Linked DNA regions of Homo sapiens: region 1 is reported to be linked to region 2. The links are microRNA targets in miRTarBase. Many come from high-throughput screens and were not tested one by one. Region 2 holds a microRNA gene; the other region holds the end of a gene's coding sequence.
The links. Region 2 holds the annotated microRNA hsa-miR-3117-5p (AGACACUAUACGAGUCAUAU, at 1,223-1,242, shown strand). A microRNA usually pairs through its seed, bases 2 to 8, with sites in the 3' UTR of a target mRNA and lowers its output. Matches are read on the target gene's strand: a 7mer-m8 pairs with bases 2 to 8, a 7mer-A1 pairs with bases 2 to 7 and ends in A, and an 8mer does both.

Region 1: the mRNA of ORMDL2 is a reported target of hsa-miR-3117-5p. Seed matches in the 3' UTR shown: 7mer-A1 at 1,393-1,399.

What each region holds. Positions count from the first base shown.
Region 1 is chr12:55,820,008-55,824,007 of GRCh38, forward strand. It overlaps ORMDL2 (ORMDL sphingolipid biosynthesis regulator 2), which reads left to right. Exons shown (of 4, transcript NM_014182.5): 4 at 253-1,872. The coding sequence ends at 388. DNAJC14 (DnaJ heat shock protein family (Hsp40) member C14) reads right to left here. Exons shown (of 7, transcript NM_032364.6): 3 at 3,395-3,501; 4 at 3,063-3,182; 5 at 2,565-2,725; 6 at 2,366-2,468; 7 at 978-2,180. The coding sequence ends at 1,970. Among named protein-coding and RNA genes, the nearest start is that of ORMDL2, 4.0 kb to the left of the region's middle.
Region 2 is chr1:66,627,230-66,631,380 of GRCh38, forward strand. MIR3117 (microRNA 3117) reads left to right here and starts at 1,211; the gene lies at 1,211-1,288. The region is part of intron 2 of SGIP1 (SH3GL interacting endocytic adaptor 1); the gene reads left to right.

The sequences.
Region 1 (4,000 bases), not on the chromosome of region 2:
AAAACTGGTCATTTAAAATAGAAGAGAAAGAGCAGGGCACTGTGGTGCATGCCTGGAGTCCCAGCTACTTGGGAGGCTATGGCAGAAGGATTGTTTGAGCCCAGGAGTTTGAGGTTGTACTGCACGTATCACACTTATGAATAGCCACTGCACTCCAACCTGGGAAACATGGTGAGAACTGTCTCTTAAAAAAAAAAAAGAATATGGATAGAGAAGGTCAACCTCACTCACCCTATTTTTTTCTCTCCCCAGCTATCTCCTGGCCAGCTTCTATACCAAGTATGATGCTGCGCACTTCCTCATCAACACAGCCTCATTGCTAAGTGTACTGCTGCCGAAGTTGCCCCAGTTCCATGGGGTTCGTGTCTTTGGCATCAACAAATACTGAGGGATGGGTTTTGGGACAGCTCCATGGGCATGGGGAAGGCACTGAAACAGAGGACTATAAAACATCCTTCTCTTATTCTCCATACTGTCTTCTACACCTTTAAAGCCTGAGAACTATACAACCTTTCCCAGACTCCCAAGAAGAGAAGAGATTGGCAAATGGGGCTCCTGGGCCCAGTCCTGCTAGTGGCAAGTTTCTTTGAATCAGGAAGGCAGGTGAGGTAAGGGCCAAATCACTCTCCTCCATAGCAGGAAGCCATTTGGGCAGCTTCTTTGGTGATTACATCTTTCCATATCTTTTACACTTACCACCTTCCAGCTCTGTTTTGCTGTGTATTTTTCTTACAATAATTTTTTTCAGCTATAGCTGCAGTTTAATCAGGATGGGTAGAGAGCTGTCCTCATAAGGCTGGGGGTGGGAAGATGGAATACTGACCTAATGTATAAAACTTAAAACAATTCTCCAATCCCCTCTCCTTTGGTCCAGTAGGAGGTGCCCTTCACTCTAAGCTTAACACTTAGTAGGGAAGAGATTCTCAAATGAGAAAAAGGGCTCCGGCTATATGGGCAACAAAGAGGGAAGATACAGGTTGCCAGTTATACATTTATAGAAAGATAATCCCCTGGCTTTAAATAGTCATGTACATACAAATATGAACAAACTTAAAAAAAAAATACAAACCCTTGGATCACATGGGGGCTTCTGGGAACCCCCGTATTCTTCCCCCTCACCCAAGGGCAGTGGGCATGAATCTACTTTTTAAAAATGATTAATTTTGGCCATCCTTGCAGAAAAGAGCCTAAAATTGGGTGATTTACCCACAAAGTGAAAGTCGAGGGAAAATTCAGTTTCCAGTCTCTGAACTCTATGCGATAATCTCCTATCATTAGGGCTACATGCTTTCTTGTTCTCTTTTAAATATTATATCAGGATAAAGGAGAGGGCTCCCTCCTGAAATGGGTCAAGAAAGAAGATAGACTTGTAGCTTTAAAAGGGTGGGAAAAAGTGTCATCTGCCCTAAAAGCAAATGACAAGACAAAGGCATACAGACCCCAGGGAAATACCCAGTTCCCACACCTAAAGGGATACACTGTCCAGCCCAGGTCCAGGCCCTAGGTTCTTTACTCTAGCTACCCCCTATTTCTTTGGTATTGTCAAAAGACAAGATTCAGGCCGGGCACAGTGGCTTATGCCTGTAATCCAGCACTTTGGGAGGCCAAGACGGGTGGATCACCTGAGCTCAGGAGTTCGAGACCAGCCTGGGCAACATGGTGAAACCCCGTCTCTACTAAAAATACAAAAAAGAATTAGCTGGGCCAGGTGTGGTGGTGTGTGCCTGTAATCCCAGCTACTCAGGAGGCTGAGATGGGAGAATTGCTTGAACCCGGGAGACAGAGGTTGCAGTAAGCTGAGATCACACCACTGCACTCCAGCTGGGCAACAGAGCAAGACTCCATCTCAAAAAATAAAAAGAAAAAGATTCAGTTCCTAGGTGTTGGGGGAGGAGGGATAAATCAAACTCCATCCTGTGCTACAGCCCTTTTGACTCCCTGACATTGATTTGAGGAAAGAGAAGGGGCATCAACGTTGGAAGGGCCTCCTCACTTTCTTCCGCCGCTTAGGTTTGGCTTCTCCCTTGGGTACTGTGCTGTTGGGCTTAGAGGCTGCAGCGGCTCCAGGGGCAGGCTGAGGAGCTGCAAAGAAGTTCCCATTGGGCATCTGCCCTGGGGGTACTTGAAAGATCCGACTCAAGAAATCCTGAAGATCAGCAGGAGGGGCATCTGGGGTGGCTCTGAGGTAAAACAGAAGAAATAAGGCAAGAGATGTTAGAGTCATATGGTTACCTAAGTTAGATATACTTATCAGTTCCCAAACTTCCTAGAAAACAAGGCCCCTGGGTGTCCTAAAAAGCAGGTCATCTGAAACCGTATTCAAAACTGAAATAGTGGATAGATTATTGACAGAAATACCACCTACCTCTGCCGCCCTCTGGTGCCTGGAATCCGAGAACCAAATGAGATGTGATAGGGGACTCTGTGGGTATCTGGGGAGATACCTACACGCTGGCATCCAGCCCACTCTATAAACATGAGAAATAATTAGCCAAAACGTCGCAGTTTAGAGCACATAAAAGATCAGGAAGTATGAGCCTGTATTTCTAGAGGACAGAGAGTACCTGTGATGTCATACACCTTTCCATCCATCAGTGCAAAGTAGGTGATCTTGAGGCCCAACATGCTTGACTCTGCCCAAAAGTCTCCTTCCTCAGCAGGATGCAGCCTATTACACTCAGCACAGTATCTGGCACTCTTAGGTTCCCGGTCCATTTCAAACCTCCTGCAACCAACAAAAGGATAGTTCCTTAATAATTTGTCAAGCCTACCTAGGGCACTGCTAGTAGTCTTACCATTATTCACAAATAGGGCTGAAACATCTAAAATTACCCCACTTAGTATTTCATATCCCTTCAACGTTCTATCCTAAAGCTAATGTTTCTTAGTGCTAATTAAAATCGTCAGTCTATTGACAATATGACAAAGGTAGAAACTTAAGGGTCTTTTTACTAATTATGAGATACAGATGTAACTCATAATTACCAGTACTCACTAGAAAGATCCTTGGTTACATAATCCCTGAGCTGTGATTGTCCCATCCCTCTCCTTCTATTTCATACCTATGCTTTCCTTGGCATCGGCTACACATCATAGTATTCATTGCCTCCTTGAGGTCATCTTGCAGCTTGGACAGAAACTCATTTACTGACCGGCTCAGCTCATTCTCTGCCATTCGTTTCCTAATAGAAGAAATGCTTTGTAAGTCAGAAGGTATTGAGGGAGGGACAAAGGAAGACATATCAGTTGGCCTCTTGAGGCCCCTGTCTAGCGAGAAAGACAAGTGACTTCAGTTCTCTCCATCTCAACAAGCCTCCACCCCCAAGTCCAGATGCCTCTGCTATTGAGGATTTTTCATTTACCATTATCTGATGATTTCCCATCTCCAACTTACATCTCATACTCCTTTCGCTTTTCAGCATTGCTGACAATGTCCCAAGCTGCTCGCAAAACCTTGAAGGCCTCCTCAGCCCGGGGATGATGATTTTTGTCAGGATGAACCTACCAAGACAGAGAGATTTCATTACAAATCCATTCCAACCCTCTCCTCACCTTGAATTTATTCTCATATCAAAGGGTTCTCTTTCATCACCCTTTTGAAGAGTCAGTGTAGCTTAATGATTAACTGCTCTGACTCTGCAGATCTGGTTCAATTCATGGCTCTGTTATAATTAGCTACATTACCTTGAATATCTTTTTTTTTTTTTTTTTTTTTGAGATGAAGTCTCGCTCTGTCACCCAGGCTAGAGTGCAGTGGCACGATCTCAGCTCACTGTAACCTCCACCTCCCAGGTTCTAGCAATTCTCCTGCCTCAGCCTCTCTAGTAGGTGGGATTACAGGCATGCACCACCACACTCAGCTAATTTTGTATTTTTAGTGGAGACGGGGTTTCATCTAGTTGGCCAGTCTGGTCTCGAACTCCTGACCTCAAGAGATCTGCCTACCTCAGCCTCCCAAAGTGCTGGGATTACAGGCGTGTGCCATCATGAATATCTATCA
Region 2 (4,151 bases):
GGATTGATGATCAGTGATGCTTCGGGGTGGGGGAGGAGACTTGAGTTTGGCCTTCAAGAAGATGAGGATGTGTATTTCATGCAAAGGGAACAACAAAAGCAAAAGTGGAAAGGTAGTAAAGTCCACTAGGCATTTACTGACAAGACAAATGGGGCAGTTTGTCTACTTGGGGTTACAGGTAAATGTGATAATGGAAGGCAAGGCTGGAAAGGAGACCAGGACCAGATAGGAAGGGCCTTAAGTACCAGGCTGAAGTGTGTGGGCTACTTCCATAGGCAGTGGGCCACCTTGAAACCATGAAAGTTTTTAAGCCAAAGAGTGCAAAGGATTGGGCGAACAAAGTTATTTTTTGTCTAGATGCCAAATGTTAAGTTCTTATATTTTCTTTTTGCATTTTCTTTTGTAACTATTTATTTCAAGAATATTACATTTACTGTTGTCCTGCAAATTTTTCTAAATAATTAAGTTAGCAATATTTTTCTGAGGATTATATAATTTACATTGTTTCTTAAGAAGTTTGCCATTTTCTTTCTTATACTTTAAGTTCTAGGGTACAATGTGCACAACGTGCAGGTTTGTTACATATGTATACATGTGCCATGTTGGTGTGCTGCATCCATTAACTCGTCATTAACATTAGGTATATCTCCTAATGCTATCCCTCCCCCCTCCCCCACCCCACAACAGGCCCCGGTGTGTGATGTTCCCCTTCCTGTGTTCAAGTGTTCTCATTGTTCAATTCCCACCTATGAGTGAGAACATGTGGTGTTTGATTTTTTGTCCTCGCGATAGTTTGCTGAGAATGATGGTTTCCAGCTTCATCCACGTCCCTACAAAGGACATGAACTCATTATTTTTTATGGCTGCATAGTATTCCATGGTGTATATGTGCCACATTTTCTTAATCCAGTCTATCATTGTTAGACATTTGGGTTGATTCCAAGTCTTTGCTATTGTGAATAGTGCCACAATAAACATACGTGTGCATGTGTCTTTATAGCAGCATGATTTATATTCCCTTGCCATTTTCTAATCATTAACCACCCAGAATATGTGATGATGCCTTCACTAGATCAGAAGACCTGGGCTGTAGTCCCAGCATTGCCAAAACTCCATGGCTTTGGGAATTACCCTTTACTTTGCTGGGCCTCAGTTTCCACACCTGTAAACAACAACAACAAAGAAATTTACACTAGATGGAATCGAATTTCCCTAAAGGGCCAGACACTATACGAGTCATATAAGGGAAGGCATTATAGGACTCATATAGTGCCAGGTGTTTTGTGGGACACTATTCGATGGATCTCAGGAGAACATCGTTAATGGAAACCAAATCCATTTCTGAATGAAGACAATGTCTGTAATTGACTGCACCAGAGATTTCTGGCATGTGAGGAAAGTTGGAATGGAAAAAAGCTTTCTCGAGAGAGAAAAGGTTGAACAACCTCTACAGGGCAGGCTGAACTAATTTACATGTAGCCAAAGCACTACTCTTCCATCATCATTTCTAAAGTTATTAAAATAACTGAGTTATTCCTCACAGCTACGGGTAGAGGCCCAATATCTCTCTGAGGTACTCTAACGAGACATTTGTTTAAAGAATCCCAAGTATCCTTCCTTAACTTATCATTTGAGAGTCCCAAATTACTTACGTGATAGCAAAATAGCTGAAGCTGGTTCCACCATCAGTGATGGTCAAAGGACAAGCTGTTTAGTATGTTTAGTATAAGCCTTTGCTTTTCATGAACTCCCTAATGCTTTCGTGAACTCTGTAATTGGATCATATATCATTCTCAGAAAAGAAATCATAAATGCAAAGGGGTTGGGAAAGCACTCTAGCAATTTGCTGTCCCTTCAGCTTTAGTAAATGCTTGTGTTTGTCTGTGATCATTGAAGCCTTGTTGATGCAAACTGTTTTCAGGGCTGCTACAACTCACTGTGGGTTGCTCAGCAACCTGCTAGGGTAGACACACCAGCACCAACTTCAGCTGATTGAACCTCCTAAGATATACAGTGGGGTTAGGACCAGAATTTCCTGATTTGGTCATCATTACAGCAGCTGATAGAGGAAGGGAGAGAGGTTGTGCTAAGTGGAAGGCCCTGTGCAGGACATATGTTGCGCTGATATCTTTTTTAGTCTTCCTAGTAATTAAATAAGGTTAGCAGTAATACATCAATTTTAAAGAGAAATATCAGTGCCAAAGGGGGATAAGTAACTTTCTGAAGGCTACCCACAAACTAAGACTTGGAGGCCATATTCTAGTCTAAAATCCAGTGTCTGTGCTTTCATCACCCAAAAGAAAAGATATCAATGGGTAGAATTAAAATCCAGACAGATAGGAGGGTAAAAAAAAAAGACAGTAGTTACAAAAGGTAACTGAAACTTTAAAATATAGATGCCAAAAGTCCATGGTAGATGATTCTTTTTAAAATAGAAGTCAGCAAATACAATAAGTCTGCCATGAAAAAGAAAAAAATTATTTTAAAATACAATATAAAACCTCATTAGAGGGGGTTAGAAAGTGAAATTAGAACACATGCCCAAGTGTCTGAGGCTGCTAAAATCTCTTCACTCCCTAACCTGGGTCATAGTGTATAAAAATTATTATTCTAGAAAACATTTAATGAGCATTTACTATGTTCTAGAGACTGTCTCAGGTTCTTCACTTATGTTAGTCCACTGAATCCTCTAATAGCCCTATGGGATATATGCTGTTATGATGGCTATTTTATAGATGAAGAAACTGAGAAACAAAGGGGTGAAGTAACTTGCCCAAGCTTCTGCAGCTAGGAAATCGACATTGGTTGATCCCATGCAGTCTGGCACTGGAGCCGGTGCCCTTAGCCACCATGCTGACTGACTCCACAGGACACATGAGCCACATTTCCATCAGTCGAGAAGACAAAGGATCAGAATAGGACTCCAGTGCTGCTATGTACAATCACAGTTTCTCTGATTAAAAATTGTGGAAGACCATCCCAACGGCTGCAATAAGCATGAGGTCAAATGCCTCCCATTTAAGATCCCCTACTGATATGACCTTGTACCTGGATTCACAGTGAGCAACACCACAGCCAGGCCAATCTCCGAGCTTTTGCCGCATCTATTTCTTGCTGTTCCCAAAGGCATCTCCACATGGATCAGTGCCTCTAAACACATCCTACCCAAAAGTTGATGCAATCACTTCTCTCCCAGCTCCATTAGCAGAGGTTGAAGTCCTAGTAAGAATTACTCATATGTGGAGATATTAAGTCCTAGTAAGTTGAAGTCCTAGTAAGAAATACTCAGTATATTGGCCAGGCACCGTGGCTCACACCTGTAATTCCAGCACTTTGGGAAGCTGAGGTAGGTGGATTACCTGATGTCAAGAGTTTGAGACCAGCCTGGCCAACATGGTGAAACTGCTTCTCTACTAAAAATACAAAATTAGCTGGGCGTGGTGATGCATGCCTATAATCTCAGCTACTTGGGAGGCTGAGCCAGGAGAATCACTTGAGCCTGGGAGGCAGAGATTGCAGTGAGCTGAGATTTTGCCATTGCACACCAGCCTGGGTGACAAGAGCAAAACTCCGGAAAGAAAGAAAGAAAGAAAGAAAGAAAGAAAGAAAGAAAGAAAGAAAGAAAGAAAGAAAGAAAGAAAGAAAGAAAGAAAGAAAGAAAGAAAGAAAGAAAGAAGGGAGGGAGGGAGGGAGGAAGGAAGGAAGGAAAGAAAGAGAGAAAGAAAGAGAAAGAAAGAAAGAGAGGAAAGAGAGGAAGAAGGAAGGAAGGGAAAGGAAAGGAAGGAAGGGAAAGGAAAGGAAGGAAGGAAGAAAGGAAGAAAGAAAGAAAGAAAGAAAGAAAGAAAGAAAGAAAGAAAGAAAGAAAGAAAGAAAAAAAGAAAGACTGACTCAGTATATAGATACAAAAAGAGAATTGGCTTTGATGAGTATGGATTGGTACCTATCCTCAGTGCTCTCCTGCTAGCCTGGGCTTACTATGACCATGATAACCCACTGGATTTACTCACCCATTTCATTCTCTCTGAGATTAATATGTTTTCATTATTTTTATCCTTTGGTCCTAACCAATCACCTGGCTCATTACAAGCACTTTTGTTGGCCAAGATTCTTCCTATCATTCTATTTTAAATAAAATTTTTTCAAACTGGTTA